2 separate regions of the Homo sapiens genome follow, and region 2 is linked to region 1. The links come from fine-mapping of genetic effects on plasma protein levels. Region 1 holds a variant in brackets. A gene starts in the other region. All regions are shown on their forward strands.

Region 1 (16,534 bases):
GAATAGAGTCAGCCTCAGACTTGGAGTTTTCTACCAGGAGTGCTTGAGAAAGAGGTACTGGCTAAAGACTGTCTGGGCTGGGCAGAAAATGATCGTGGCTTTCTTCTTCATCACAAACCCAGATCCCAAAACCAGTATGGGGGGATGGGGGATGTCCTATTGAAAGCCAGACTGGAACTAACCCCGTCCCCTCCCTCACAACACTTTTTCCGCACGTCCATTAGTACACTTATCAACCTTAGCATTGGATCAGAGTTATTTTTGTCTGTTTGTCTTCCCCCATGAGATTGTAAATTTCTAGATACTGGACCTGGGCATTTCCCCCTCTTTGTGGAGAGATTTTTAACCTTTTGTGGATCACATACATCCGTAAGAATCTGATGAAGAGGCCAGGCACGGTGGCTCATGCCTGCAATCCAGCACTTTGGGAGACTAAGGTAGGAGGATGGCTTGAGCCCAGGAGTTTGAGACCAGCATGGGCAACATAGCGAGACCCTGTCTCTACATAAAATTTAAAAATTAGCCCAGGCCAAGCATGGTGGCACACACCTGTAATCTCAGCATTTTGGGAGGCTGAGATGGGTGGATCACTTGAGTCCAGGAGTTCAAGATCAGCTTGGGCAACATCGTGAAACCCTGTCTACAAAAAATATAAGAATTAGCTGGAAGTGGTGGCACTACTATAGTCCCAGCTACTCGGGAGGCTCAAGATCACTTGAGCCTGGGAGGCAGAGGTTGCAGTGAGCCAAGATTGACCACTGCACTCCAGCCTGGGTGACAGAGGGAGACCTTGTCTCAAAAAAAAAAAAAAAAAAAAGCCAAGTGTGGTGGTGCATGCCTGTGGTCCCAACTACTCAGGAGGCTAAGGTGGGAGGATCACTTGAGCCCAGGAGTTTGAGGCTGCAATGAGCTATGATCTCACCGCTGTACTCCAGCCTGGGTGACAGAGTGAGATCCTATCTAAAAAGAAAGAAAAGAAGAGAAGAGAGAAAAGAAAAAAGGAATCTGGTGAAGAAACGGTTACACTTTCCCCAGAAGTTTGCTCGTCTCCTGTATATTTTGCATACTATTTTGGGAGGAGGTACACAGTCCCCTGACCCCTATACATGGATCCCTAGTTAAGAACTCTGCCTGAAGCTTTACCCAGTGCCTGGTATGTTCTTGGAGTCTGATGACTTGGGAATATTCTCCTTATTAAATCTCCTTGCTCTAGTTGCAGGGGACAGATGTTAGGTGGGAGAAAGAGAGCCAGGAAGAACCCTGCTGCTGGGAGATGCAGAAGAGTGTTTAAATCATCCATCTGGAAGCAGCCATCCAGAGAGCAGTAGCTTCACCCTCACTTCCTGTCCCGGCAGAACCGGAGGTGGGGTCTCCTCCCTGGGCTTGGTCTTCCCTTGGGCTCTGCCGCGCCTCCTCTTCGCCCTGTGCCTGCTGTTTTCCAGTCTCATGACATCCCTCTGCTTGTCTTTCAAAACTCTGCTTATCCTTCTCTCTCATCTCTTCCCTGAAGCCTTCCTCAATTATTTTAGAACCAGCTGACTTCGTTCTTTCTGGAACTTGTGTTGCACCTAAGTTTTCTGAAACTTACAATTGATCACTGACTTTCTTTCATTCCTACTTCATCTGGGTTGGTCTTGCGTGTCCCAGCTAGGTTGCTAGAGAAGCCAAAGATGGCTCCAGAGTATCTGGTTAGGACAGTTTGCTTCACTCTCCCCACAGCATTGATGGAATGCTTGGAAGAGGCAGGCAGTTCCCTTAGAATCGGGTCGGCGCAGGCTTCGCTGTGCCCGTGTTTCCTCCGTATGGACATGGCCATCCTTGCTGCCTTAACTTCTGGCATTGCTGTTGTGCCCTCCAGGCCATCTGCTGCTGTCTTTGGTCCTCCATTTCTTCCTTCCTTTACCATGGCATAGTGGTGAGAAGCTTTGAAGTCAGACTACGTGACTTTGATCCCCGGCTCTTGTCCTTAGTCAGCTGCGCCTCAGTGAGCATATTATTGAGCCTCAATATGTCCCAGTTTCTTCTCTGTAAAATGGGACTATTAATGGTACCTGTCTCATTGTGTTTTTGTTGTGACAATTAAGTGAAATAATACAGATAAAGTACTTAGAACAGTTTCTAATACATAGTGTTTGATAAATGTTAGCTGATGGCTGGACACAGTGGCTCACATCTGTAATCGCAGTGCTTTTAGAGGTTAGAGGCTGAGGTAAGAGAATCCCTTGAGGCCGGAAGTTTAAGACCAGCCTGGGCAACATAGCAAGACCCCCATCTCTACCAAACAATAAAATAAAATAAAGAAAAATTAGCTGGGCATGGTGGTGTGCACCTGTAATGCTAGTTATTAATACTTGGGAGGCTGAGGCAGGTGGATCGCTTGAGCATAGGAGTTGGAGGCTGTAGTGAGCTGTGATCACGCCACTGCACCCCAGCCTGGGTGACAGAGCAAGGCCCTGCCTCATAAATAAATAAATGCTTATCTGAGCGCCTAGTATGTGCCCAGAATTGAATGTTGATTTGAAGATACATGCAGTAGATGTTAGGCGCCATTGTTTATTATAACTTAATCAGCTTTTCAATACCCTCTGTCCCTGTTTTGATTGGTTTTAGCATGCTGACTTTCACATATCAAAGAATCCTAGGACAGGGTGGACCCCAGGGGTGCAGACATGGAAGAAAACCAAAAGCAAAGCAGAAGTCCAGAGATTTTAAATTCTGAAATGGATTATATCTGCATTTCTTCTTCTAGGCCCATGGCAGACATCTCCAATAGAACATGAAATTCTTTTACCGAGCTCAGCTGCAGCCTCAGAATTTTCTCAACATTTCTCACCAGGCAGTCACTACAAATTGACTTGAGCTGCCCCTTAAAAAGGTTATCTATTTACCCAGCCTCCTGATTTTACCAGTGAAGAATTGAAAGCCTGGAGAGCTTTAATCAACCTGCCCATATAGCAGTTTATAGGACTCCTGGTGCCTAGACTATTGTTTACAACACACCATGCCACTCACCCTCTGCCTTCGCTCATTCCCTTTTTGTTTGCTGAGGATGCCTCCTTTTAACATCTGAGTTTCACGAGGTCAGGGAAGATCCTTTCTTTTTCTAACTGCCCTAACAATCTGGTAGTATATTGTGCCTGCATATAGACCAACCTCAAGTCTATTGATCTATTTTTTTCTTACCAGTGAACTAGCTGAAGTTATTGCCACTCAGTTGGGGGTGGATCATGCATGTTCCCAACTCAGCTGCCTTTAGGGGTGATCCATGCACTGACACCCTGCATTGACATTGATATTGGAGAGTAACCTGCAAAGAAGTTATTGTTGATGTTGAATTGAATTTTCACATTGCACGAGAAAGGCCAAGGCTCGACATTCTTCATCCAACAGGTTCCTTTGTTGCACACTCCCGTCCTGAGAAACGGAACCCATTCCAGTGTACAGCTTCTTAAATAAAAGGCAAATGGAGTCATGATTTCCTCTCTCACTTTCTTGAATCGAGAAGGGATGGGAAATAATGAATAGATGAAGTTGATTTTAGATCAGAAGAATCCTGGAACACATGAATGATGAAGCCCTTTGGTAGACAGATTCATGATGTATTTAAAACATTGCTGTCTTATCCGTTATTCTTCTCTCTGTGTAGAAATATACAAGTTGATGAGGGCAGATATTTTCATAATCCTAGTTCTGTTTAGCAAATGGAAGTCCATTACTGGCAGTGTGAGGGTAAAAAGTGAAATGGGTAACAGATTAAAGAAAAGTGGCAGAGAGGTAGCAACAAATAGGTTCAGAACATGTTTGGAAGATTATAGAGGGGGCACAATGGTTCAGAATGCCTGCAATCCTGGCACTTTCAGAGGCTGCTGTGGGCATATTGCTTGCACCTAGGAGTTTTAGAGCAGCCTGGGCAACATGGCAAGACCCCATCTCTACAAAAAATTTAAAAGTTAGCCAGGCATGGTGGCCCAACCCTGTAGTCCCAGCTACTTGGGAGGCTGAGGTGGGAGGATCGCATGAGCCCAGGAGATCAAGGCTGCAGTGAGCTGTGTTCGCACTACTGCACTCCAGCCTGGGTGGCAGAGTGACACTCTGTCTTTAAAAAAAAAAAAAAAAAAAAAATTAGAGGAGGTAAAAAAAAAAAAAATATTCAAGCCTGATTTAGCTTGTTGAATGAGAATTCAATTTTGCTTTGATGCATGAAAATTGAAAAAATATTTGCATAAAGAAAATTCTCCAGTAGTAAAGCTTTAATTAGGTTGCTTAGGAAATACCACCTGTCTGTTTTAGGGAAGTATTTATTGATTGAAGCAAGAGCTATCAAATTGGAAGTCAACATTTACCATTTTGAGAAAAAGAAATGGGCAAAAACTACCCAAGGTACTTGTTAATACAAAAAAGAATAGGGAAGTTCAGTTTCTGGGATATAGAAATTGGTTGTGATATTTTCAGTGATGATTCTTCTAGCAGCTTTTTCAACAGGAAAAAAAATCCTTAAGAAAGGGTTTTTCTATCTTTTTCTGATCCTTTGTATCTCTAAGAAGGTTGGGAAAGTTCCAGGGTGGTGAACACTTTCTCCAGCCGGCAGGGTTTTCACGAACCAATCTTGGGAAGGAAGGGGTGGAAGGGCAGGCAAACAACAGTACCCTGTTTTTACATAGAACCTTTCTCCTGGGAAGTCACAGCTGTGGTTACCTTCAGGATCAGAGGTTGCTACTGCTCTTCTCCCTGAAGGAAGTTTGGTCCTTTTCCACCCATCTGGGAAGGTGTCCTTATGGACAATGGAAGTGGAAAATGACACCCACCTAGCGTGATGAATCCTGGAGTTCGCTGGGAAGACAGAGGTTACAGCCTCCTTTATAGAGAGGGGAAACTAAGGCAAGAGGAAGCTGGCACAGACAAACCTATTAAGTCCTGAAGGAATCAAGGCTTCTGACTCAGCTCCAGGTAGGGGATGTAGCAGAGTTCAGAAGCTCAGCAGGCCACAGGAGACAGCCTAGAGTCTCTCTGCAGTGACCTGACTCTTGGTGAAGGTATTTTGTTTCATGGCTGTGGCTTTTTTTTTATTATTATTTAAATGAAGCAGGGTCTCACCATGTTGCCCAGGTTGGTGTCAAACTCCTGGGCTCAAGCCATCATCCGACCTCAGCCGCCAGAGTAGCTGGGTTACAAGCACGTGCCACCGTGTTCAGTGATGGCTGTGGCTTTGATGGTGTCACTGCCCCACTCTGCCCAGATCCCTTCCCTGAACTGTTGTTCTTGGACTGCCAAACTGGGTAGGGGCAGTAGGACTTTGAATCTGGTCATCAGCAGTAAAAGGGGATATACTTAGGGGACCTTTGGTCACCTAACAGCCAAGAAGAGAAACAAAGTGAAGTCAGGGAAATATGGGGGACAGGATCTTACTTCTAAGGACTCTCGATAAGGGGGAAGTTGAGCAACTGTGTCAGGTGCAGATAAAAAGTCTGGAAGAATGATACCTGGGAAGAAACCAGCACGTTTGGCCAAGGAACAGGGAGAGTTACTGGTGAATTGTGTTAACTGAGACGTGCCGCAGCAGGAGGACGGCAGAAGCCACGTTGTAGAATCATAGAGTATTTAGGCTGGAGGGGAACACCGTGTCCAACTGAGGCCTTTAGTGGTCGGGTGATTTCTCTCTCGTTTTTGCTCATGTAAGTGCAGTGGATCCTGGAGTTTGTTACCAGGATGGGGAGTTCTATTCAGAACTGACCAATTAAAAAAAAACCAACCAGGATGGGGAGTTCTTTTTTTTTTTTTTTTGAGATGGAGTCTCGCTCTGTCGCCCAGGCTGGAGTGCAGTGGCGCCATCTCGGCTCACTGCAAGCTCCACCTCCCGGGTTCACGCCATTCTCCTGCCTCAGCCTCCGGAGTAGCTGGGACTACAGGCGCTCGCCACCACCCCCTGGATAATTTTTTTGTATTTTTAGTAGAGACAAGGTTTCACTGCGTTAGCCAGGATGGTCTCGATCTCCTGACCTCGTGATCCGCCCGCCTCGGCCTCCCAAAGTGCTGAGATTACAGGCGTGAGCCACCGCGCCCGGCCAGGATGGGGAGTTCTATTCAGAACTGACCAATTAAAAAGGAAAAAACATAAGTCCTTTTTCTCTTAAGCATATGGTTAGGGTAAGAATACTCTTGTGGGATTCAGGCTGTGTGGGGTCCAGTCTTGGTTCTGTGGGAACTGGCTCTGTGACTTTGAGCAGGTCAGCTCTGCCCCCGGACGTCAGTTTCCTTTTCCGTAAACACGGAAGGCTTGACGGTGTGGTTCCTGAGGTCCCTCTGACCCTGACATTACGGAAGGCTTGACGGCCTGGTTCCTGAGGTCCCCCTGACTGACATTATTCCCAAAGAAAATGCATTGGCCTTAGCACTGGGGATTCTGAGTTGGCCGTGGCTGGAGAAAGACTATGATAAGGAGCCCTGGGGAGATGCCTGGGTTCCTATTGGTGACCTCGCCTTCTCGTTCAAGCAGGACGGGGAGTGGGACCCAGGCCCAGCCTTATCTCCGGGACCGCGGCTGTCCTCACCCCTCCTCCTGTCACCTGAGAATAAAAGGGTGGGCTCCATAGGCGGGGGCTGTGAGGAGGGGTGCAATTGCATGGGTCATGGACGATGGTCCTTAGACATCTCTGGGGAGCCTTTGGCGGGAGAGGCGCAGGGACTTGGGGGCACTTCCCCAGGCCCTGGTGACCGTGGTCATCTTTGTCACAGCCTCCTCCTCTGCCCTTGCAGGCCAAGGACTGGACCAGTCCCTCTCAGCCTTGCCTCTATCTCTCCCTGCCTGCTCGGCAGCCAACACAGAAACACTGCTGTGTGCTTAGCCCAGGGGTGGGAGGGATTTCTGCCCAGGGATTGGCCATGGAATTGGCTGCTTATTTTGGCAGCTCCCACCACAAAGACCATCAGACGCTGAGGGAAGGCGAGGTGGGAGTTAGTGAGTCATGGCCATGCCTCAGGGAGGGAGGGAGCTTTCACCAGAGGTGCCCCTGGAGGAAGCAGACTTCCCCTCCAAAGAAGAGGGGTGGGACTCTGGATGCTTCCTCCCAGGGTCACTGGCTTAGGTCAACTAAGGGGATGAGCATCCCCGTGGCGTTCTGTGTAATGGGAATAATGGCCCTGACCTCACAGTGCCGTGGCAGCAAGTTGAAAAGCTAGCACATCAAGCTCTCAGTGAAGGGTTGCTTTCCTTTCCTTGGTGTGCCTTAGG[A/G]TATGACGGGGTAGGCACCATGGGTGCAGACATGGAGGAAAACCAGAAGCAAATCAGGAGTCCAGCTGCCCACATCCAGTCACTCTTGATTCTCGTGGTTTCTCCAGTGCCCAGCTGAGGCTGGCCATGGTGGGAAAGTGGGACTTTGCTCTGTGCTGCCTTCTCCTAACCCTGTGTTGTCCTGAGGCCAGGCAGACAGGCCCCAGTCATTACCTCACCGCAGGGCCCCTGTCTGCCAGAGTGCATGGTGGAGCTGCCTGGGTGGAGAGCGGAGCTAATTTTAGACCTGGAGACTCTTTGCCAACAGCTGTGGCTGGGCCCAGGCAGCTGGGCTGGATGGCTGGGGGGAGTCTCAGCCGCCCTGCAGGGAGCCCTGGACACAGCGCTCCAGGTCTGCTCTTGGGGGCATATTCCTGCCTCAGCCTCAGCTGTGGGGAAGCCTGGATGAGGGTCCCTCTGCACAGAGGGTGCTTCCTTCCTCCCTCTTGCATCAAGATATTTCTGTCCTCCATCTCCTCTTTCTAGGTGGCTTTGTAGACCAGAAAACATTGATACGGCATCTTAGATGGTAGGTCAGTGGGCCTCTGAAATGGGGCAGGTAGGGGCAACAGGAAGAAAAGGGTGTCCCCAAATCGTTCTGGGTTTATAGGCTAAATCCAGCCTCCCACTCAACCCCGAGCCAATAATCTAATTGAGTGCTTCTCAACCTCCTTCCTGTTAGTACACAGAGAAAATGACAGGAAAAGATACTTGTAACACACATAGGGGTATAAAGAGGTTTGTGGTTGGATGTTGCCAGCCCTCAGATTCTGCTGCTCCAAGCACTGAGGGCTGATACTTTGGGACACGTTACCATTTGGAGCCTACTAGCAGCCACAGCACACCAGTGGGGAAGCTCTGATATCGTCCGTCAGTGGCTTGCCACAGTCCATGTATGCCAAGTCCAAGCTTCAGGAAACATCTCCTTGGCTAATCATAGACCTGTGCTGGAAGGGAACCCAGAGAGCATTGAATCTGTGCTCTCCTTTTACAGATGAGGAAACTGAGGCTGAAAGAGGCTTGTCCAAGGTTAAAAAGCTAGTAAGTCAAAATCCCAGTTTTAAGTTCTGTTAGGACAGTCATCCCTTCATTTATCCAACATTTATTGAGTTCCAATAAAGATCAATATTTGGAGGATACAATGATGAAAAAAGTTGTGGGGATTCGTCTGTATTTGGTAAAGAGAAAACCAAGGAAACCATTCAGGAAGGTCGTTATTTCCGGTGAGAGAGATGGGGATGTGATTGGAGAGAGGCACAGAGGGCTTCAAAACGTGTCTGTTTCTTAAGCATATGCAGCCAGGCACCGTGGCACACACCTATAGTTCCGGCTACTCAGGAGGCTAAGGTGAGAGGTTCACTTGAGCCCAGGGGTTTGAGGCTGAAGTGATGTATGATAGAGCCTGTGAATTGCAACCACATTCCAGCCTGGGCAACATAGTGAGACCCCATTTCAGAAGGAAAGAAAGTGTACACAGGTGTTATTCTTCTTTTCTCTCTTTTTTTCTGGAGACAGGATCTCACTCTGTCACCCAGGCTGGAGTGCAGTGGCATGATCATGGCTCACTGCAGCCTTAACCCCCTGGGTTCAAGTGATTCTTCCACTTCAGCCTCCTGAGTAGCTGGCACTACAGGTGGATGTCACCTCATCCAGCTAATTTTTTTTTTCCCTTTGGAGAGACAGGGTCTTACCGTGTTGCCCAGGCTGGTCTTGAACTCCTGGGTTCAAGCACTCCTACCACCTCAGTCTCCCAAAGTGCTGGGATTATGGACATAAGCCAGGATGCACGGTTGTAGGTGTTATTCTTTAAACCATCCTATATATTCCTTTAGATGCATATTTCTTTTAAATAGCAATTGATAAATATAGAAAGAAAAGTGAGACAGCTAGAGAAAAGTGGCCTGTGGAGTTAGGTAAGGAGAAAGACAAGTAGCTTTGCTGTTACAAGGCAGGGTGGTAAGAACCATGGCAAAGCTATTATAGTAACAGCCCAGCTTGGCTGGACACAGTGGCTCATACCTGTAATCCCATAACTTTGGGAGGCCAAGGCAGATGAATCATTTGAGCTCAGGAGTTTGACACCAGCCTGAGCAACATGGTGAAACCCCCTCTCTACCAAAAATACAAAAAATTCACTGGGTGTAGTGGTGTGTGCCTGTGGTCCCAGCTACTCAGGAGGCTGAGGTAGGAGGATCGTTTGAGCCCGGGAGGCAGAGGTTGCAGAGAGCTGAGGTCATGCCACTGCACTCCAGCCTGGGCAACATAGTGAGACCCTGTCCCCCACAATAAATAGTAGCCCAGTTATGTGCACGTGGCACATGTGATCTCATTTAATCCTCACAACGGACACTTTCTATTGTTTCCATTTTACAGGTGAGAAAATTGAAGTTCAGAGGTACTTACCTTGTTCAGAGTTTCATGGTGAATCTTCTTTGCAGTCAGATTCAAGTGCTCACATCTTAGCCATGACACTGCAATGGTGGAGGGGCGAGTTGACTTGCACAGTGAGCTGGCCTTGGGGTGGGATAGGGGAGAAAAAGGCAGGAAAGTTACTAAATCTCTCTAATTTGTTTCCCAGTTCATAAAGTGGAACTAACTTTACTTGCTGCTCCTTCTTGTCCAAATAATTTGAATATGAAAGCACTATATCAGCATAAAAGCTGACATTTATGAGGAACTAATCCCGTACCAGCGACTTTTCAGGTGACACCTTCTCTAATCGTTCCTTGACCCCATCAGGAGCACACGATCCCTGTTTCACAGGCAGACTGCCTCCCTGCTCTTAGCATCCTCCAGTTACACATCTCTTTCCGCCCTGCCTTCCCCGAGGTGCTGGCTTTCACTTGTCAGTGACGGTCATTCTGAGGCTGAGATGTAAGAGATACGAAGTACCTGTCCTTACCCCACCCCTAATGCAAGCAATGCCATCCTGTTGGCACGTGCCACGGTTATCTCTGGGGCCATCACCCTTTGCTGAGAAGGCTGAGGCTTTGAAATCCTTGAGCTTTCACAGTGGTTCTCGGCCTGGCTGCACACTGGAGTACCTGAGGAGCTTTAAGGACTCTAGCTTTAAGAATTATTCGTGTAAGACCTCACCCCAAGTCAATCAGTTAGATTTGAGAGGAGGAGTAGCCCAGCATCATTCTCCAGGTGACTCTGAAGGGCAGTCAAGGTAGAGAGCCTCAGGTGTACACTTTCTCTCCAGATGAGCTGAGCTGAGAAATAAAGGGTCATGAAGAGATGAGAGAACACAGCTAAGCAATGACCTGGATGCCGCCTGGCCCCAGGCTGGCCCAAGGATTAGGCAGGACAAGTCAGGAAATGGGAAAAGAAACAGAGAAGGAAGGAGACAATGAAGTCTACAGGAAAGAGGAGAAAAATTAAAAAAAAAAAAAAACCACTCGTTTTGGTTTGGAGGATGCTAAATTCCTCCCAGTAATGGTCCCAGACCTTTCCAGTGGTATGTATGGTGTGAATTCCGGTGTGTTCTGAACTCAGGTCCATCCTGTGGTGTATGTGGGCTTCAGGAGATACAAGGAAGTGTGAACGCTGTCCAACTGGTATTCCAAGAGCTATGGTGTTCTCGCATAGACAAAATATACACGTCACACATAACACATCCCTTTGGCATGTTCTCCCCAGCACCCAGAAGCACCCTCATGAGAAGTGAATTCTGGCATAGAGGAGGAAGACGTGGTGTTGGAGGTGGGATTTGAACTGGGGTGTATGATGCAGAGGACTTAGATGATGAGGGAGGATGAAGACAGAGGAAACAAGCACGGATGTGCCAGGGACAGGACAAGCCTGGCCTGATGTGAGAGGAGGCTGCTACATCCCCAGCAAGCGTGGGCACTGAGAAGAAAGATGTACTTACAGTCCAAGGGCAGCAAAGTTGAGAGAAAAGGAGGGAGAAACCAGCTATGGGAAATGGATCAGGCTCAGTAGATATGTGAATGGTAGATTAATCACTTGACCACACAAATACATTTTCTATCTCTACTTGGAGTCTGATTCTATGACATTAGGAACCAGCAAACTGGGACCCCCATGGTGGGGTGGTGTTTACAGATGTTCCACTAGGAGCAAGAGATGTGAAGAAACCAAGACCCAGAAATATGTGAATGACCTCAGGGTCGATAGACCCAAGGCTTCGGCTGGCGACTGAGAATGACAACAATGATTCTCAACCTCAGCTACGAATGGGATTGCCTAGGAAGCTTAAAAAATAACTGAGGCGATACAAGCATATGATTTATCGACACTCACGGAACTGTTCGTGTAAAATGGATACATTTTATTATATATAAATTATACTTTAAAAAGTTGATTTTTAAACCTAGTCAACTTCTGGTCTACCATGTAAGGAGCTCAGAATCTCTGCCCTTCTGTCCTAACCACAAGTAAAGAGCTGAACAGACTGGGAAATCGACAATTCTTAGATTCCTCAGAGAAGGGAGGTGAGAAGGAAAACTGCTGTCCCCAAAACTGGGGAGACAGGTAGGCAGATGCAGAGAATCACAACTTACCAAAGCAGAAATCCATGAGCAGAAACCTCTGCAGAAACCAGTGTCTAGGCAGGAAAACCTAAACTGTAATTGATGAATTACTGGAGGCTCAGTGTGAACAAGTCTGAGAATTAAAAATTCCAGGGGACTCAGTCCCAAGCTTGTGTGAGTTTTACCTCTAGGAGCCTACCAAGTCCTCCCTGTACATTTTGGAGAAAAATCCCCTTCTACTTCCAGCAGGGGGAGGGAAAAAGAAAGCATTCTGAAATACACCAAAATATTCTTTTTTTTTTTTTTTTTTTTTTGAGACGGAGTCTCACTTTGCCACCCAGGCTAGAGTGCAGTGGCGTGATCTTGGCTCACTGCAACCTCCACCCCTCAAGTTTAAGTGATTCTCCCACCTCAGCCTCCTGAGTACTTGGGATTACAGGTGCCTGCCACTGCACCCGGCTAATTTTTGTCTTTTTAGTAGAGATGGGGTTTCACCATCTTGGCCAGGCTGGTCTTGAACTCCTGACCTCATGATCCACCCGCCTCGGCCTCCCAAGTGCTGGGATTACAGGTGTGAGCCACCAAGCCCGGCCTATTCTGTTTTTCTTAACAAGGCCTGCCCTCAGGGGAAACTATTTTACGAGCCTGACTTGCTGTCCTAACCTACCTAGGGGAGGGGAAATACCCAACACCAGCCCCTTCTGGTCATCCTGTCCCATCTAGAGTGGGGAGAAGTCTGATGTAGATCACAGTCCAGAGGCAGAAGCTCATTGAAAGACTGAGATAAAACTATAGAATGCATCTGCTCCTGGACACCTAACCACGATATCACTAAAGGCCCTTTTCATAATTTGTTTTACTCAGCACATCACTTTCAACAAAAAGTTACGAGGCATACTAAAAGGGAAAAAACACATTTTGAAGAGACTGGACAATTAGAACCAGAGTAGGTATGGAAGAAGTGTTAGAGAGGCCAGACATTTTTTTAAACTATGATGATTAATATATTAAAATTTTTAATGAAAAAAGTAGACAACATGCAAGAACAGATGGCTAATGTAAGCAGAAAGATGGGAATTCTAAGAATGAATCAAAAGAAACCCTAGAGATCAAAACCCCTCTAACAGAAATGAAGAATGTCTTCAATGGACTCATTAGTAGATGGGACACAGCTACGAAAAGGATCTCTGAGCTTTAGGATATGACGACATAAACTTTCAAAACTGAAAAGCACAGAGAAAAAAGACAAAAACATAACAGAATATCCAAGAACTGTGGGACAATTACAAAAGGTGAAATATACATAATGGAATATCAGAAGGAAAAGAGAGAAACAGAAGCAATATTTGAAACGATAGCAACTGACAGTTTTCCCCAAATTAATGATAAACACCAAACCACAGATCCAAGAAGCTCAGAAATCATCAAGCAGGATAAACACCAAAATAAAACAATAAACACAATACCTAGCCAGACCATATTCAAACTAAGGAAAGTCAAAGATTTAAAAAAAGTCTTGCCGTGTGTGGTAGCTTACACCTGTAATCTTAGCACTTTGGGAGGCTGAGGCGGGCAGATCACTTGAGGCCAGGAGTTCGAGACCAGCCTGGCCAACATGGTGAAACCTGGTTTCTACTAAAAATACAAAAACTAGCCCGGTGTAGTGGCGCATGCCTGTAGTCCCAGCTACTTGGGAGGCTGAGGCAGGAGAATCACTTGAACCTAGGAGGCAGAGGTTGCAGTGAGCCGAGATCGTGCCACTGCACTCCAGCCTGGGCAACAGAGCGAGACTCTATCTTGAAAAAAAAAAAAAGAAAGAAAAGAAGAAGAAGACCAAGAAGAACAGCCTGGGAAACATAGTAAAACCTTGTCTCTACCAAAAAAAAATTTTAAAATTAGCCAGGCATGGTGACATGCGCCCAGCTACTTTGGGAGGCTGAGGTGGGAGGATCACTAGAGCCCAGGAGGCTGAGGCTGCAGTGAGCTGTGGTTACACCATTGCACTCCAGCTTGGGCAACAGAGCAAGGCCCTGTCTCCAAAACAAACAAAAAACCCAAAACTTGTAAGTAGCCAGATAGGGGGAAAACACCTATCAAGAAGCAAAGATAAGAATTAACATCTGACTTCTCAGAAACCGGGTATGGGCCAGTATGGTGACTCACGTATGTAATCCTAGCACTTTGAGATGCAAACAAGAAGTGAGTCAAGTGAAATATTTAAACAGCTGAGAAGAAGAAAAAAAAAAAAAACCCCATCAACCTAGAATTCTGAACCCTGTGAAATGATTCTTCAAAAGTGAAGCAGAAATACTTTCTCAGACAAACAAAAATTGAGGGAATTTGTTGCCAGTAGACCTGCCTTGCAAGAAATGTTAAAAGTAGTTCTTTAAAGAGAAAGAAAATGATACGTCAGAAACTTGGATCTACATAAAGAAAAGAAGAATGTTGTAGAATGAATAACTGAAGGTAAAATAAAAATTGTAATTCTTCATTGATCTAACAGATAGGTTTATTCAAAATTATAACAATGTATTCAATTATGTATGCTCATATATACTGATGTATGCTTATATATAAGTGAAATGAATTGCAGCATTAATGCAAGAGATGAATAGGCAGAATTAGGAATATTTTGTTATTGTAAAGTACTTGCACTACCTGTGGAGTGGTATAGTGTTGTGTGAAAGTGGATGTCCCAGCCTGGGCAACATAGCAAGACCCCATCTCTACAAAAAAATTTAAAAATTAAATTTTTAAAATTTTTTTAACAATGGCACATGCATGTAGCTCCAGCTACTTGGGAGGCAGAGGTGGGAGGACTGCTTGAGCCCAGGAGCCCAAGGTTGCAGTGAGCTATGATTGCACCTCTTCACTCCTGCCTAGGGAACAGAGTGAAACCCTGTGAAAAAGAAAAGAAAGAAAAGAAAAAAGAAAGCAGATGTGGTTTACTTGTATGTTGTAAACTCTAGGGCTCCACTGGAAAAAAAAAAAAGTATAACTGATATGCTAACAAAGGAGAGAAATAATGGAATCATTAAAATGCTCGCTTAAAACCACGGAAGACTGCAGCTATAAAAAAGAATGGGTTCATGTCCTTTGCAGGGACATGGATGAAGCTGGAAACCGTCATTTTCAGCAAACTAACACAGGAACAGAAAACCAAATACCACGTTCTCACTCATAAGTGGGAGTTGAACAATGAGAACACATGGACACAGGGAGGGGAACATCATACACTGGGGCCTGTCAGGGGTTGGGGTGGGGGGGCAAGGGGAGGGAGAGCATTAGGACAAATACCTAATGTATGCAGGGCTTAAAATCTAGATGATGGGTTGATAAGGGAAGCAAACCACCATGGCACATGTATACCTGTGGAACAAATCTGCATGTTCTGCACATGTATCCCAGAACTTAAAAAAAAAAAAAAACCCACAAAATACAGAAAAAGAAAGGAAGACAAAAATAGAAAGAGAGCGTAAGGGCAATACATAGACAATAGTAATAAATATGATAGATATTATTAACCCAGGTATTTTAATAATCATTTTAACTGTGAATGGTCGAAATAAACCAATTAAAAGATGGAGATTGTCAGAGTGCATCTAAAAACAAAACCCAACTGTATATTTTCCACAAGATAACCACTTTAAATAGAAAGACTCATATAGATTAAACGTAAAGGAATGGAGGAAAATATACCATGCTAACACTAATAAAAAGAAAGCGGAAGAATAGATGAATCCACTGTTAGAGTTGAAGACTTCAACATCTCTCTAGAAATTGACAGATGCAGCAGCCGGAAAATTGGTAAAGACATAATTGAACTTAACAGCACCATCCGTCAACTGGATATAATTGACATCTATGAACTGCTTCATCCAGCAATAGCAGATTACTAATTCTTCTCAAGCTCACATGGAACATTTACCAAGATTGACCATATTCGGGGTGGTAAAACACACCTTAACAAATACAAAAGAATAGAGTTATACAATGTCTGATCTCAGACCACGATGGAATTAAACTAAAAATCAATAACAGAAAGATAACTGGAAAGTCCTCAAATATATGGATATTTAAAAATGTGCTTTCGAATAACACTTATGTCAAAGAAGAAATCTCAAGAGAAATGTAAAAATCTTGAACTAAATGAAAATATAACCTAAAATTTGTGGGATGCAGTGATAGCAGTGCTTAGAGGGAAATTTATAACACTGAATGCTTATATTAGAAGAGAAGAAAGATCTAACATCAATGACCTAAGCTTCTACCTTAGAAAACTAGGAAAAAAGAGCAAATTAAATTTCAAAAACAGAAGAAATAATGAAAATTGGAACAGAAATCAATGAAATTGAAAATAGGAAATCAGTACAGAAAGTTAATAAGACCAAAAGCTGTTTCTTTAAAAAGATCAGTAAGATTGATAAGCCTCTAAGCCATGCTAACTAAGAAAAAAAAACAAATTACTAATGTCACAAGTGAAAGAGGAGACATCACTACAGATCTCATGGACATTAAAAGTATAATAAAAGAATATTATGGGCTGGGTATGGTGACTCACATATGTAATCCTAGCACTTTGGGAGGCAGAAGTGGGCAGATCACTTTAAGCTCAGTAGTTCAAGACCAGCCTGGGCAAAACCCCATCTCTGCAAAAAATACAAAAATTATCTGGGCATAGTGGCTTGTGCCTATAGTCCCAGCTACTCAGGAGGCTGAGGCTGGAGGATCATTTGAGCTGGGAAGTGGTGGTTGCAGTGAGCTGAGATCA
Region 2 (16,534 bases), not on the chromosome of region 1:
TACTCTTACCCATTTTCTGAAGTTTTTCCAGTTGCTTTCCTTTTTAATTTTAGAAAACCCCTCTGTTTCTTCATCTACTCACATACCAACTTGTCTCTAGAGTTGCACAGTAAAAATATGGGAAATAAGATGTACTTTTACTTTAAAAAGAGCTTTTCTCCTGTTTTAAAAGTGAAACTTGCCAATTGTGGAAATTTTGGAATAGACAGAAGCATAAAAGTGAGCAAAAATAACATTCATAAACCTACCATCCGGAGATTTAAAAAAAATTAGTTCCCCATTGCATACCATACAGGAATATAAATTTCAGATGGAATAGAGAACTATGGGTAAAACATAAAATTATGGCAGCAGTAGAAGAAAATATAAAAATATAGGGTGAGAAAGACCTTCCTAGGAATAAGAAATCCAGAAGCCATACAGAAAATGAATGACAGATCTGACTACGTAAAATTTTAAAACTTCTATATGGGAAAAATACAACTTAAAGATTAAAACAAGTGGCATATCAAAAATAATATTTAAAATATAAAAGGTTAATAAGTAAGTTTTTAACAAATAAATATCACAAGCAACCAAACTAAAAATAGACAATTCACTGAAGAAATAAAATTGAACTAGTACATAATCGAAAAGATGCTGCAGAAAGAGAAAAATACCAAGCAAAACTTACAGATTATTTCTCCTATTAAAATGGCCCCAAAATACAAAGATTGATTATAATCTTGGTGAAGGAATTAGAAATGGACTTTCATACATAGATGGTGGGAGCATAAATTAATACAACTTATATGAAGGGCAATTTGACAGTACTTATGAAGATTAAAACTGAACATGCACTTCGACTATTTCTCACAAATACTTGAATAAGTGCCTAAAGATGTTCATAAATGTCTTACTTTTAATAGCAAAAACCGGAAACAACCTCAATATCTACAAATATAGACTGGTTAAATAAACCAATGCAAACTTATGCAACTGCAAACCATGCAAGCATTAGAAAGAATATGGCACTATTACATTGCAATGTATTGACATGGAAGGATGTCCTACACACATTATTGAGCAAAAGCAAATCACAGAAAAGTGTATATAATATCCTATTTTTGTAAAATAAAATATCATACAGGCATGTATATATAATTTTATAAAACAAAGAAAGTAGTTTGGAAGATCACACAGCAAACCACTAATAATGGTTATCCCAGGAGAGTGGAATGAGAGTTTAGGGACACATGTTCCATATGAAGCTCAGATGCTTTCATGTTGTTTTGTATAATAAGCATATATATTAATTTTATAATTTAAGAAACTTAAAAATAAGTTAACAAGCATTTCCCAGGGCCACCAAATTTTCAATAAACAGTGTTTTTAATAGTAGCATTATATTGCATTACCTGGATCATTTTTGTAACTATTTATCTATGAACTGACATTTCCACTGCTTCTGACTTCTCACTGTTAGAGCTGCAATATAAATCTCTGTGCATGCATATTGTGTGTGTTTGTGTATGTGCATGCATATATCAAGACAGCATATATAGGACATATGCTTTGAGGTTTTCCCTTTAGCAGAGATGATTTTGCATGTCTTCAGAACAGTTAGCTTGGGCATGGACACACATAATGATGCTCAGTGGCTCACTAAGGGAAGGACCATGACCTTAGCGTCATCATCTGACAATAAGCCTGAAACACTGGACCAGATCTGGTGCCCTAGGCCATCTGTTACATAATCACTTTGGCACCAATTGAATATCAAAAGGGCTTGGGACAAATTCATCAGCACAAGGAAATATTAGAAAGTAGTAGATTTGGGTTTGTAATTTTTTTAAGTCACATCTTTCTTTGTCTAAGTTTCATGGACAATATTCAATTCTTCATAAATATGAAAGGCTTTCCATAAGAGATGGTCTTCTGAGAGTTACAAGCTTTCCCCATGAGGTCATCATTAACAGGCTATAAGGGAAGTTTCTCTCTAAGACAGGAAGATTTTTTTGTATAAATTTAAGGGGTACAGGTGCAGTTTTGTTACATGGATATATCGCATAAAGTGTGGACTTTAAGTGTAACCATCACCCAAATAATGTACATTGTACTTATTGAGTAATATTTCATCCCTAAGCCCAGCTAATTGTGAGCTGAGCTGAGAATGCATGGATGCTTCTGTCACATCCACTTAAATCAAGGAAGGCTTCTGGAAGAGGAGGATTCTGAGATGAACTATATTCAAGTGGAAGAAGAAGGAAGCAATTTGAGGGATACAAGAGTAGAGGCTGATCCAAGCTTCCTTGCTGAGATCATGCCCCACTAAACTTCCTTTTGTGTCCCAATCATACTAGATATCACCATACACCGCTCATGCTCAAAAGCATAATCAAAAACACTATTAAACACTGTTTCTCCCAGGAAGAAGACTACACTTACTATGAAAATTGTAGTGGGACAGAAACACACTTAAGGATGGAATAGGCTTGGCACTGTTCTCCTTGTCAGCAAGCCTTCTGCCTGATCTATTTAACTTATGTGATAAAAGAGATAAAGGTTTAAGTGAAGGGCTTCAGATGCTGCTTCAGTTCCTACCAAGAATATTTTCACAGCTCCTTCTCATGAATAAGTTCAGTGAAGCAGAGAATGCCCCTCTTGGACCAATTCCATTTTGTGCTTTTTTTGATGCTGTCAAAAAGGGGAACTAGAGCTTAGGCTTTTCCTTCAAATTTAGAGCAAGCATCTACCTCAGAGATGGCTGCAAGTGGCCCAAAGAAGGTAAGACCCACATTGTGCAAAGGCAGCAAGAACGGATATGTCGACCGTTACTCATAAATCTCCTAAACGTGGCAGCAAGGAGGGTTAATTATCCCCCCCGCCCCCACTTCCTGCCACTCTCTGCTTTCTCCAATGTGTTAGCCCATTACACGGATCGCTGACTTTCTAGAAATATTCCCTGGCTTTGCGGGGATGTTCTTTTCAATAAATGGCATCCAATTTGCTAACGGTCCCTGGAATCTCAATTTCCTCAAAACATTTTTCATCTGAGCCCAGTTCATAGGAAGGTTTCGTCCTTCCTCGTTTTTCGGCATAAGGGAATAGGCAGAGCCTGCTTTTCTTTTTCTTTTTTTTTCTTTTCTGTGTCATTATTTTTCATAAACTGAAAGCCTTTGCTGAAGAGTCTGAAATTTGGGAAAATTCCAGCTCATCTGTCAGATATTTCTAGAGTTACGTAAAATGTAATGAGATTTGTATAGTTTAGAACAGGGAAGAGAAAATAAGCTAATGTGTCATATGTTCTATGAGACAAAGACTACATGATAATCAGAAAAACAGCCCCAAATTTAGTTGGCCTGATTCAAAGCTCTCATTCTTTTATCAATTCATGCATAAACCAGTAACATTCACTTTCTTCTCTTAGAATAATGGCACGGCCACATTTGGGCTAAATCATAATTGCTACAGATTATAGCCACATTTTCAAAGAAATTATAAAAAGTGTATTATTTTCCAAATGCAAGACACTTACGTTTTACTTGCTCTGTTTTGCCTCCTTCTAGCAAAAGAAAGAACAACAACGAAAAGATGTATTTCATGCCTCCCATTTTCCACTTTTTTCTCATTTGGACCACTGCAAAAGGTGACAGAACCTTCAAGCTGTTGGGAAGAAAGCAGAAAAAAGACTTAACACAGATCTTCTGGAAATGATAGAGGTCACTGATGCTCAGGCTTCTAACCTGCTAGAATAAAAAAAAAATGTCCTAGAATTTACATAAGTGTAAGTATTGTCTGCCTGCACAAGATAAAGGACTTGCCTCTCCTGTCTTGCAAGGCTTGTGGGTGAAAATTCAAGTGAATGAGGGTGCATTCCTATCCAAAGCTGAGGCTAAGTCCTTACAGGCAAGTTATAGGAAAATGAAAATAAATTTTGAAATCTTCCTTTCTAAGGGAATTAAAGTTGATTTCTCAAGAGATTTTTTTGGGAGAAAAGGGAAACTTTAGCTTGCAAAAACGGTTATTTTAGCAAACAAGGTAAAAGTAACAAGCATGAGACCAAGCAATTTCTGAAATGAAAGTTAACTAATCTTAGCTTCAAGACTACTTTTAATCCTTTTGGAATGAAGTACAAATTGATCAGTTTCTCCTGTGTCCTCTATGAGATCTACAAGGATCTTTGGTTTGGCAACTAATATTGCAAAAGATAGATGTAATTAGCAAATGGATGCAATTAAACACCTGAAAAGTTTTACTGCTTAAAATGGTTCCAACATATTCCTCCCCCAAGAAGTCCATTGTAAAATGGAAATTTTAAATGGGCCATTTTTAGGGGAAATTGGGCAAATTAAATAGATAATTTGTTCACCTTGCACCACCATGCAAAAGACCATTAAAACAACTACAGTTCTTCAAAACATGAGATTGGCATTCCCAGTATAAGGGGTAGAAATCTTAAACCTTTTGAACCTTGGAACACAGAAAGTTTGCTGTAGCTCACATCTAGTCACGGATCATTTCCACAGATGTTAGAGTTTGCAAAATTCCTCCAATGGGTGATCTGAAAATATTGAAATGTTCTAAAAACACCAGATTCAATCTGAATGGGAAATGAACTCATTGATCTTTCCAGAAAGTCCAACCTAAATATTGCACATAAAGAACTTGAAGGAATGCAAAACGATCATTTTGGAGAGTTGAATATCTTTGGGCTCTGAAGTAGATGCTACAGCTCCTACTTAAATGCTATGAAGTTGCCTGGGTCATTCAAAATCCACTGTTTCAATTATGAATGCATAACCAAGGAAGAACTGATGATAGAGTAATCTGTGCTATCAAACAAGATTTGCAGCACCGTCTGCCTTCCTTCTTTACCTCCTCCCTGCTCCTTAAAGAACCAAATTCTCTCAGGACATGTTCCTACCCATCTAAAGACCTGAGTTCTGATGTCTTGGTCCCCTCTGTGAGTTTGTGGCCCACTTACAATCACTCAGAATGTTACTGTCCCTTGAGGGCTACCACGTTTATTCGAAACAAATCATTTTCATTAACAATTTAACACAGCTACCCACCTCAGTGAGGTTCTTCCTGAGCCTATTCTAATAAGTTTATTCCCCAAGCCTCCAAAAGAGAAAGATTTTTAACCACTGAAATCCAATTTATCACATTCATATATGGATTTCAACGGGTGTTTCTGAAACCATGGTTTTAGGGTCTCCCCATGCGAGAATCAACAGGGCTGCTTTTCTTGTATAATGGTTGGGCGATTCGGTGAACTGTAGCATTGCTTCATAACTCAAGTTGGCAAGAAAACAGCTCATAGATTTTTTTGCCTTTCTTAGGTCCCAACTAATATTATGAGCAAATAAAAAAGTTGGTAACTAGAGAGCAATTAATCTCCTTTGGCGTTCCTGTCATCTGTGTGGCCTCCCAGGCTGTGATGGAGAACATCAGAAAATGAATCGCTTTATAAATATTCACTTTTGATTTACAAGATCCTGAAGTCCTGCCTTTGTATTCTGTGCAGAAATATGAACCAAGAAGAGTTCCCTCCCCAGATCTCCTCACTGTTCAATTTCTCTTTATCTCTTCAGCTTTTTCTTTTAGGGAAGGGGGTGGTTCAAAACATGTGTTGGGACTGCAGCAGTAAACACTAGCAAGCATTGCTCAGCGAACTTAGCCGACTCTTATTCTTGCAAAGAGCCAAACTGTCCTTAATTTTTCAAATTATACTTTGACCCAGTTAACTGGAGTTATTTCTGCATTAACTCTCTGTCTGCTTCACACAGGCTGTTGTGCCATTGAACTTGCACTGGCTCTTTTACAGGTTACTTAGACATGTAGCCATTGACATGCTTCAGGGGATCCAGGACCCAACAAGAAAGCAACAACAACAACAAAAAAACAAAACCCTGCAACTAACACAGGTAGTGGAGGTGGGATGGGAGAGTTCCTGTGTTTTACAAGAGAAAGAGAAATGTATCAAGTACCAAAAGAAAGGTATTTATTAAGGTGCTTCCATGAAACAAGCATTCACATTGTTCATCTGCGTTAAGCAAAGGGACCAACTGCTCCTTGCCCAGCTGTGACTGCAAGGCAATCTGGGCCATCAAGTGTCAGGAGCCCACTTTCAGAACAGGTCTCCTGGGTAGAACAGAAGCAAAGAGACATCCCCACAGGAAGGCTAAGGGATGAACACATGTCAGCCAGTTCTTCACGCCCCACAGTGTCTCTTTAATCCTCCTGAGAGGCTTGACTGACCTTGTAATCTCACATTGACTATCATCTGTGGGACAGCCCCTAGGGTAGCAATTTTCTTTCCGACAAACAATAAGAAAGACACTGGAGTCCCAGGCCCTTGTCCATCAGCTGAAATCCTCTCCCCACTCTACCACCCAGCAAGAAAAGTTCAGTTAACTGGTGGTGTGTTGCCACTGAAAATGGCAGTTTTAACCCAGGGTATCTCTTGTTGGAGGAAATGCTTTCATTGCTGCTTATGACTGACAAACAATGCCTCGCATTTGGCTTGCAAAACACCTTTCTATCATTTCATTTCATTCCACACAACTCCACCTTCAAAATGGGCACTGGGGGGACCCAGAGAACTCAAATAACTTTAGTGGCAGGGCTGGGAGGGACTGGAAAGCAGGCTTTCCGGGCCCTATGTTCTGGCAATATACCACGTTGCTTCCAGAGCCTAGTGTCTCAAATTCTGACCCCCGTAGTCAGGGACAAAAAATGAGGCAGATGGCCAGAGGATAGGATAGGGAGCCTTTCGCCCATCTACCCTGCTACATTAACTTTACCATGTATTCATCAGCAAAATGAGAAAACAGGCTCAGGAATACAGGCAGTGATTAAGGGGACTGCAGAGTCCCTTGGGTAGCTCAGGGTGGAGTACCTAAGTGACCTCTCAAAGCGCCAGAGCATAAAGAAATGCAGGCCGAGTGGGGAGGGACGAGCTGTGAGTTCGAATTCAGAGACCCCCAACTTGCTTTGGTCAGAAGCCTTGGGCCCCACCTCCATCCAGGTTGCTAACTGCTGGAGCACAGAACAGGTTGGGGTGGCAGGGGAATTTGGGGCACCCTGGGGAAACTTCCAGGGACGGCTCCGGCCAAGAGAAGGCAACCCACCTGTGCAAAGGCTGGAAAAGGAGGTGAGGGAAGCGGGCGCCGGGCACTGCTCACTAACCTGGGCACTGGCCTTCTCCGTCTGCCACGCGTGCACGCGCTCCGAGCTCCCCGGGGCGCTCTCGTCCGAGGTCTGGGGCTGGCAGGTTGTGGCGAGAGCTAGAGTGCGCGCGAGGGGGGAGGGGGAACTCAAAAGTGGGTGGGAGGAAAAACATCACCGCCCTCACACCACGAGGGAGCAGCGGCTTGCTCGGCTCCCGGGGGCAGAGCCAAGGCGCGGGCGCGGCGGCCCGGGGCCACCTGCCCGCCCTCCCGCTCGCTCCCCACTTGGCCCGAGAAGCCGGCCGCTCGGCGCTGGCGGGAAGTCCGCAAGCACGCAGCCGCTGCAAGCACGCACACTTTCTCCACCCCGGCACAATGGCTTTATTTCTGCTCCCCCGGCCCGAAAGTTTAAAAATCGGGAGAAAGTGTGAGACTCAGCCGGCTACTTTCCCATCACACAGCGCCCCCACTGCAGCCCCCACTCCTTTGGCTAGGCGAGCGTTGGGGTCTTAAAGGGACCGCACAGCTCCTCCGGTCCCTCCTCCCCCTCTGCACTGGATGCACCTAGGAGCTCCCCACCACTCGCGCACGCCCTGAAGATACCGACTACCCTCTGACTCCCCTGCCTGGAAGCCCACACCCGCTCTCCTCCGGCACCAAGGCCTTTCCGAGGTGTGCACCTGGTCTGGTACTGAGCTGGTGCCCTGGACACAGAATGAACCCTCCTCGCAAATCACGCCCTAGCATGCTGCTTATCATTTCACGGCGTTTCCCATATCCACACTGTGGCTAACAGAGTGACAAAGCTTTGGTTTGGTGTCCTTAAAGGCGGGGTGGAGATGGGTGTGTGTAGGGTCAGGGATTAGAAATCCACTTTCTCTTACAAACTGGGCTCCCAAGCCTCATGGAAAGGGCCTGTTCTAACTGTTAAGTGTCTTGAAGAAAACTTGGTGCCACACACTATACCCACCATTTTTTTTTTAAATGAGTCCCTAAGCTTCTAAGTTGGGCCAAGAGCTCAACCTGGAAATCACAGTAGCACTGCTGATGCCTTGGTGGGCCTGCCTACTCCAAATTTGTGTTTATTCAACAAGTGATAGTTGCAAAGAATTGTCAGAAACTTCTAGGGTCCAGGAAAGTGCTGCCTCGACAGACAAAATTTTAAGCCCCTAAATTTGGAGAAGAACCGCAGAGCTTTTTTCTAGATGAACTAGATAAATATCTATATTCCTAACATCTGTATAGTACTTTATGGCTTACGGAGTGTTTTCACATACATCAACATTACTTTTTAAACCCTCAAAACCAACCGAACTACCTGAGGTCTCAAGTGTTAGAGTTGGTGGGGAACTTCTGAACCATTCAGCTTAACTTCATCATTTCACAGAAGAGGAAACTGAATTGGGGGAAGAGGATGATGTATCTAAGGTCACACAGCTAGTAAATGACAAATTTGAGATTCCAATCCAGATTCCCTGACTTTCAACCCACTACTCTCTGGTTGTTATCTCCAGTCTGTAGATGAGGAAATTGATGTTCAGAGAAACTGTGGCTTGTCAAAAAAACAAACAAACAAACAAACAAACCACTTATCAGGAACAGAAAACAAAGAAAAATTAAAACAAGAATAATTGTCCCTGAACGTTACCTCCTTTTGCTTTTTCAGAAGTGTTAATAGTATCCAGCTAGCCCCTGCATTGCTGGTGATGTTTATTTCACTGTTAACAAAGGAAAGGGGGCCCTTTCTGTAATGTTGCCTTCAGGGCCCAAAATGTCTAGCTCCGTCCTGCTGCCTGGGTAGCCATACACTGCCACATGCATTCAATTTGTGCTGTTGTATATCGGTTTGAACTTGCTGATTTGTTGCCTTATAACTGTTCTCATGCCGTTTAATGCAGTGATGTTTTGTCTTACTAGATTGTGAGTTCTTCAAGGGCAAGGACTGGTTGTTCAATTTCTCTTGTGCGTGCATTACCCAACTCCCATCATTACTTCCAACATGCTTACAGAGTATTCTGGAAAATGAGTTTCAAGGGATAGTCTGAGACAAACATAAATTCTAGCATTTAAAATAAATAGACTCACTGGGATTTAAAAGTTCATCTATTTGGCTACAACCACTCACTCCCTTGCTTGGTGTAGAATCCTAATTACTGCATAACAAACCATCCGAAAACCTAGTGGCTTAAAGCAAGCAATTATTCTCAATTGGTTCTATTGAGTTGATTCTATTGAACTTGCTTAAGATCTCTTATGCAGTTGCAGGCAACTGTATATGGGGCTGCTGGAATTCTCTGACAGGTTTTTCATTAGTGTAAATGTTAGTCATCCTTGTATTTTGTATTAGTTCCAATCTTGATTTCTGAATTGAGAACTCCCATTTGGGTGAGTCCTAATCTAGACATCCTACCAGGTCTTATAGAAACTTAAGTGATGATTACCTTCATGCTTTATTTTCTCTGTTTATTAAATAGGGATGAGAGCATAATCTCATACTCATTTTTTAAAAAGTTTTATTTTAAGATAATGGTAGATTTACATGCAGTTGTAAGAAATAATTCAGAAAGATCTCAAATACCCTTCACCTAGTTTTCCCCAATGATAACATCATTCATAAATATAGTACAATGTCACAACAGGACACTGACATTGGTACAATCCATTCATCTTACTCTGATTTCACCAGTTTTATATGCACTCATTTGCCTGTGTATATAATTCTATGCAATTTTATCGCATGTGTATATTCATGTGACCACCACCACAGTAAAAATATAAAACAGCGCCATTACCACAAGGATACCCTGTATTACACTTTAATAGTCACACCCATCTTTTCCCTTCCTCCTCTCCCTACTCCCTGTCAACTACTAAACTAAATTGTCCTACATCTCTATAATTTTGTCATTTAAGAATGTTACGTGGAATCATACGGTATGCAACCTTTTGAGATAGTCTCTTCTCTCTTCTCCCCCAACCCTGATATAATTCTCTGGAGACCCATTCAAGTTGTTCCTGGTATCAATAGTTTGTTCCTTTTCATTGCTGAGTGGTATTCCATGGTAGGGATATATCACAATTTGTTTAAACCATTCATCTATTGGAGGGTTGAGTCTAGATTTCGGTTACAACTGCTATGAACATTTGTCTACAGGTATTTGAATAAGCGTAAGTGTTCATTTCTCTGGGATAAATACCCAACAATGTAGTTCCTGGGTTGTATGGTAAATGCATGTTTAGTTTTGTAAGGACTGTCATACTGTTTTTAGAGCAACTGTACTATTTTATATTCCCACCAGAAATGTGTGAGAGATCCAGTTTATCTGCATTCTTGCCAGCATTTTTTGTTGTCATTATTTTTTATTTTAGCCATTCTGGTAGGTATATAGTGATATCTCATTGTGGTTTTAACTTGCATTTCCCTAAAACCTAATGATATCTACCATCTTTTCATTGTTTATTTGACACCTGTATATCTTATCACAAATATTTTATCCCAGTCTGTAGCTTTTCTTTTCATCCTCTTCCCTTGAACTTCCACAAAACAAAATTTTTTAATGTTTTATGTCCAATGTATCAAATTTCTGTCATATAGGTCATGTTTTGGCATTAAGTTTAAGAACCCTTTACCTAGCTCTAGATCCTGAATATTTTCTTCTATATTTTTGTTTTAAAAGTGTTATAAAGTTTTACATTTAATTATGATCTATTTTGAGTTAATTTTTATAAAAGGTATAAGGTTTAGGTTGATGTTCATATTTTGCCTATATATTTTTGTCCAATTGCTCCAGTATCATTTGTTGAAAAAGCTATCTTTCTTTCATTGAATTGCTTTTACACCTTGATCAAACATTGGTTGGTCATATTGTGTGAATCTATTTCTGGCTTCTCTATTTGATCCCATTGATCTATGTGTCTATGCCTCCACCAGTACCACGCAGTCTCGATTACTGTAGACATATGGTAGGCCTGAATTTCAAGTAGAGTGGGTCCTCCCACTTTATTCCTCTTTTTTAGGGTTGTTTTAGCTACTCTAGGTCTTGTACCTTTCCACATAAACTTTAGAATAAACTTGTCTATGTCTACAAAATATCTTACTGGAATTTAGCTAGAAATTGCATTAAACCTATTGATCAATTTGGGGACAATTGACAAATTTAATTTGTTGAGCATTCCAATCCATGAACACAGTATCTCTCCATTTATTTAGGTCTTCTTTGATTTCATTCACCAGTGTTTTGTAGTTTTCAGCATATGACTTCTATACATATTTTGTTAGACTCGTATCTACATATTTCTTTTTCTTTGGAGCAATTGCAAATGTTATTGTATTTTTAATTTCAGTTTCCATGCACTCATTGCTAGTATATATGAATGCAAGTAGTTGTTGTGTGCTGATCTTCTATGCCATGTGTTGCAGAACTCATACTTATTTAAAAAATAAATATGTAAGTGGAGGTATTATGAAATGATTATATACAAAATAATTTTCTGATAGCACAAACTTTTTGCCTTTTAGTGCTTCTTGTCCCACTGGGACTTAGAAAACTCAGGTTATTAAATTAACTTTCAAAAATGGCAGAATACATAAAGATTGATGAGTATATTGTACTATAGGTTTACCTCTTTTTAGAAAAGATGCCACCAACTTAGAGTTTGTATTAATCAGATACTTGATTCAATATATAGAAGTTGACAATTCTCTGTAAAGACCCCTTAGGATTATTCAGCTATATTCTAATGAGCCCTTTTGTTATTTGTGTATGTTCTTGTTTGTTACTGAAATTTTTCTCTGTTGTATTTTCTTCCTGCTAGCCATTTCTAAAAACTGCTAGAAAAAAGAGTAATGTCCATCAATGATAGACTGGGTTGAGAAAATGTGGCACATTTACACCATGGAATACTATGCAGCCATAAAAAATGATGAGCTCATGTCCTTTGTAGGGACATGGATGAAGCTGGAAACCATCATTCTCAGCAAACTATAGCAAGGACAAAAAACCAAACAACGTATGTTCTCACTCATAGGTGGGAATTGAACAATGAGAACATTTGGACACAGGAAGGGGAACATCACACACGGGGGCCTGTTGTGGGGTGTGGGGAGGGGGGAGGAATAGCATTAGGATATATACCTAATGTAAATGATGAGTTAATGGGTGCAGCACACCAACATGGCACATGTATACATATGTAACAAACCTGCATGTTGTGCACATGTACCCTAGAACTTAAAGTATAATAATAAAAATAAAAAAATAAAAAAAAGAAAAAAAAAGAGTTGGTATGGTTCATCTAATATTTCCAGCTTTCCTCCTTTTGAGCTCATGGTAGGATTTTACTCCTCTTCCCTTTTTGAAATTAAGTATTGCCATTTGATTTGCTTTGGCTAATGAAATCTTAGCAAAAGTCATGTGTTGCTTATTTTTACAGCATAACCTTCAATACTGTCTCTTAGCACCAGTGAAAACAATTCTGTTTCTTAGAATTTTATGACAACCAAATAAGTAAATAGCAAGAGTAGGTTATAGATTCTTGAAGGTAGAATTAAAAGGAGCAGATTCTCTTTGTTTTAATGTATTCTTATAAGTTAAGCTGTCATTTTCTATTTATGCCTTTCAGTTATTGTAGTAAACAAAAATAACGCAAAGTATTTTTTATTTGTGCTTTGTGTTATATATGAATATTATCTTATAGAAATAATTTTCTTTTTTAAGTGATTTTAAGATATTTTTAGAAGCATTTTAAGTGATTCATTTCCCAAAGAAACACATCTCCAGATTTATAATAAAGGGCATTGTAAAAGCAAGATTTGGCTTACAGAAAATTTCAGGAACATATTTATTTTTAAAAATCAAGATAATCTCATCATAGTATACAGGATTATATTAACTACCTAAAAGATGAAAGGAGTTAATTTCTTGATCCAAAATTATATTGTGCTTCATCATCACCATGAGTGGGTCATATGGGCAGAGCATAAAATACACCACTTCTGACTGAAGATTTGTTTCAGATAGTTTAACTGCATTTCCAAACAGTTATACAAAGGTGTTTAAAACTTTTAATCAAAGATGTCATGAAAAATTGGAGACATAATATGTCCAAGTGTTATGCTATGCATAGAAAAATGCAATATGGTAGAATAGAAACTGCCTCTCTAGAAGCTGTATTCCTATAGAATGTTGATTCACTTTATCAAATTTCATTTGCCTAGATAGCTTACTATAGGACCTCAAAGCATCCACAGTTCCCTAGAACCTCCATGAACTTCCCAGATTTTTCACCTTTATTCCCAGAGCTAGGCAGCAGATTGATTTATTATTATTTTTCAGCAGAAGCAATAAAAATCAATGTTTAATTGTCTTAACCACAGCATCTAGGTCTCCTCAGGGAAGTAACATGATGCACAAAGAACCAAGACAACTAAGACTATGGAATCAAGCATACTTGAATTAGAATCCCAAAAAGTCATATAGCCTTTCTGAGCTTGTTTCCTTATAGTATGTAAAAAGGGGATGATGATAAGGTAACTGTGGCAGTTCAATGGCCTACTGTATGTGGAGTGCCTGGAATATAGTAGGTGTGCAATAATTGTTTCTATCCTCACTGTCCCCTCCCTGCTTCCATCCACTTAGTCCAAATGTGAAAGCTATTGCACATTCAGTAAAGTTCTTTATTAGCTAGTCAAGCTTCAGTTTGTCTGTCTTTAAAAGAAAGTGGGGATAAAAGCAGGAAGAGAAAACCAATAATTAACCCAATTTCCCACCCTATTCTTCAAGGCGGGGAGTAAGTTGGAGAGTAGAGTGCCAACATCCCTTCAACAGAAACAGTAAAGAAACTAATGCCAAGATGTAAAATTACTCTCTCCTTGCACACAGGTGCACAAGCACTAGCTATTGTCCTGGTGCCTGGAGACTATTATAAAATGTTAGATGCAGATTTGGGGCTAGTATGCTCTTCTCTAGCTTCATGTCACATGGACTAGAAAACAAGACTCAAGCCAGAGTAGAATCATAAGAAGCCACCTGGATATTCTCAGATCCACATTGCCTATTCTTTTAGTTCTCAAGTAAAGAAAATTTGTTTCTCATTAGGAAAGATGCCGGCAACTCAGCTTTAGAGCTATAACCCAGGGGGTAAGAGCAGGAACCAGAGATTCCATAAAGCAAAGATGACAAACTGCTGACCCAAGGGCTGAAGAGAGCCTGCCCACATTTTTTTTTTCAAAATTTGAATTGGTTCTAAACAATCTTTAATTTTTATTATTGGGAGATTTTACATAAAAGACCTTGATTCCAGTTTCTCATAAAAAAATAGATTTACTAGGAACACTGGGCCGACATCTCTCCATGGTAACACAGACTGGAATAGAGTAGTAGCCGCTGCTTTTAGACAGCATATGTGCTTGCCAACTGCCACAGTCCCCACCACTCCCCATTGTGTCCCTTTTGTTACCCTCAGGCATGTTTTACTCATTCACATTACTTTCTTTTTTTTTTTTTTTATTATACTTTAGGTTCTAGGGTACATGTGCACAACGTGCAGGTTTGTTACATATGTACACATGTGCCATGTTGGTGTGCTGCACCCATTAACTCATCACTTACATTAGGTGTATCTCCTAATGCTTTCCCTCCCCCCTTCCCCAACCCCACGACAGGTCCCAGTGTGTCATTCACATTACTTTCATAACCCCTAGAGATGTATGAGTTTGAACCATTATGTACAATGATAACTATTTGAGAAGTGGCTTTTTAGGGAGGAAAACAAAAACCCTGATTTGTAGCAATTTCCGACTTCTGTTGTGTAAATATCTCCTACATGGCCAATTTCAGACTAACAATGTGTTGTCACTTAACATGAAGTTGGTAAAAGCTGTGCACAATGACTTCTCACAAACTGGTGAGAGCTGGCTCTGGAGCACTACTGGCTTGAATTTGCTCAAAAAAGCTTCATCGAGTTAATGGAATAGTTAGGAGCGTGAGCCAGGAGATCTTATTCATAGAATGAGTCAGAAATCAACCAGAAAAAGTAAGCTTCAACACTTGACATGGAACCTGTCTTTAGACCAACACTACTTCCTTGTTCTCTATGTCTTTTTAAAAATCCCACAGGCCAATTATCTAGCCTTTGGGCATAGGATAATCTGAGAGGGAAGTATGAGCTAATGAAGGGTGAGCACTAGCTTGAGGAGGTCAGAAGACACAGTACAGGACCCCTAATAGTACTGCTGAGTTCTTCCTGTAAACTGAATACTGTCCTCCTTTTGTCCTTACAGGAAGGAGACTAAGGGAAGGGACTGCGGAGAGCAGGAAGCCATTTAGAACCCATTTAGAACCCAAGTTCAGAGAGATATTGAAATAGGCTGTGAATCACATCCAGAAATCTCTTCTCACACTAGAACTACAGGGCTATGACCTATGCATGTGGCAAAGACCACAGGCAGGGACATCATCCTGTCCTATCCCGTACCGGAAAGTGACTGTGCATAGAATACTACCTGGAAGGTGAAAACTCTAAAGCTTCTTAGAGACAGCTTAGTCCAAATCTGATTAATTCACAGAGAAAAAAACTGAGGCCCAGAGAGGAAGATAAGTGGCACAACCAAGTCTGGAAGCCAGGTTTTCTGACAGCCAGTCTGGGGCTTATTTCTTCTACCTCACACTGCCTCTCAGGAGTTAAAAAGCAAAAGATTCAGTCCACCAACTGGTTGTGTTGCCAAACCAGCAACATGAATAATATTTTTTGACTGAATCAACTGTCTCTTTAGGCATCATGTAGACATAGTCAAACACTCATCTCCAGTTTTCTCTGTGTTTGGATGATTTAAAAACCTAACAGAGAATCTGCACGTCCAGGGAGTTTTGCCAAGAAAATCTGAAAATCTAAACAGTCACTCTCACATTGGCCCTATAACCAAGTGTCCAAATCTTTTTTCCCCTTTTCATATTAGAGAAAATATAATGTTCTTGCCACAAGGAAAGCAGCATCAGAATCTGGAAGGATTCTTGAACTGCGAGTTATGACTCTTGGCTTTAATTCTGTCTCTTCCTTGGATGGGTCATATCCCAACCTCCTGCTCCCTGTGGGCCTCGGTTTCCCCGTCTGTAAAATGTAAGACCTGAACTCCATGATCTCGTAGATTCCTTCAAGCTCTAGCAGTCTTTCATGGTAAAATCCTAATCCAAGTGTCCATTCACTCAACTCATTGGCCCTTTCCAACCTGTGTTTCTCTGGCTACAGGAACTTCTGGAACCCAAGTGCCAGAGACAGAGCTGTGCCTCTAAAAGACTGCAAGACTTAGTAGTTGGAGTTATTCTCCACTGCAGCTAATTTATACAGGCAGCCTCAAATTTTTATCCTCATTAGAGACCCCT

Alleles and levels. Positions count from the first base shown, and alleles are read on the strand shown. Strength reflects both the effect of a copy and how common the allele is.
For the plasma level of the protein whose gene starts at base 7,247 in region 2, allele A in region 1 goes with a lower level than allele G (weak association).

The links. PIP is the chance, under the fine-mapping model, that this variant and not a neighbour inherited with it causes the effect. Protein levels are from antibody-based Olink assays in UK Biobank. Linkage for the fine-mapping came from a reference panel and not from the study's own genotypes, which makes the PIPs less certain.
Region 2: CHRDL1 starts here. The variant in region 1 is fine-mapped to the plasma level of the CHRDL1 protein (UK Biobank, PIP 0.94).

The regions. Positions count from the first base shown.
Region 1 is chr12:474,151-490,684 of GRCh38, forward strand. The region is part of intron 1 of B4GALNT3 (beta-1,4-N-acetyl-galactosaminyltransferase 3); the gene reads left to right. LOC124902853 (a long non-coding RNA gene) reads left to right here. Exons shown (of 2, transcript XR_007063151.1): 1 at 1-1,363; 2 at 3,187-3,475. Among named protein-coding and RNA genes, the nearest start is that of B4GALNT3, 22 kb to the left of the region's middle. The variant A/G (reference allele first, on the strand shown) is at 7,229.
Region 2 is chrX:110,788,571-110,805,104 of GRCh38, forward strand. CHRDL1 (chordin like 1) reads right to left here and starts at 7,247. Exons shown (of 12, transcript NM_001143981.2): 1 at 7,174-7,247; 2 at 3,518-3,645. The coding sequence starts at 3,611.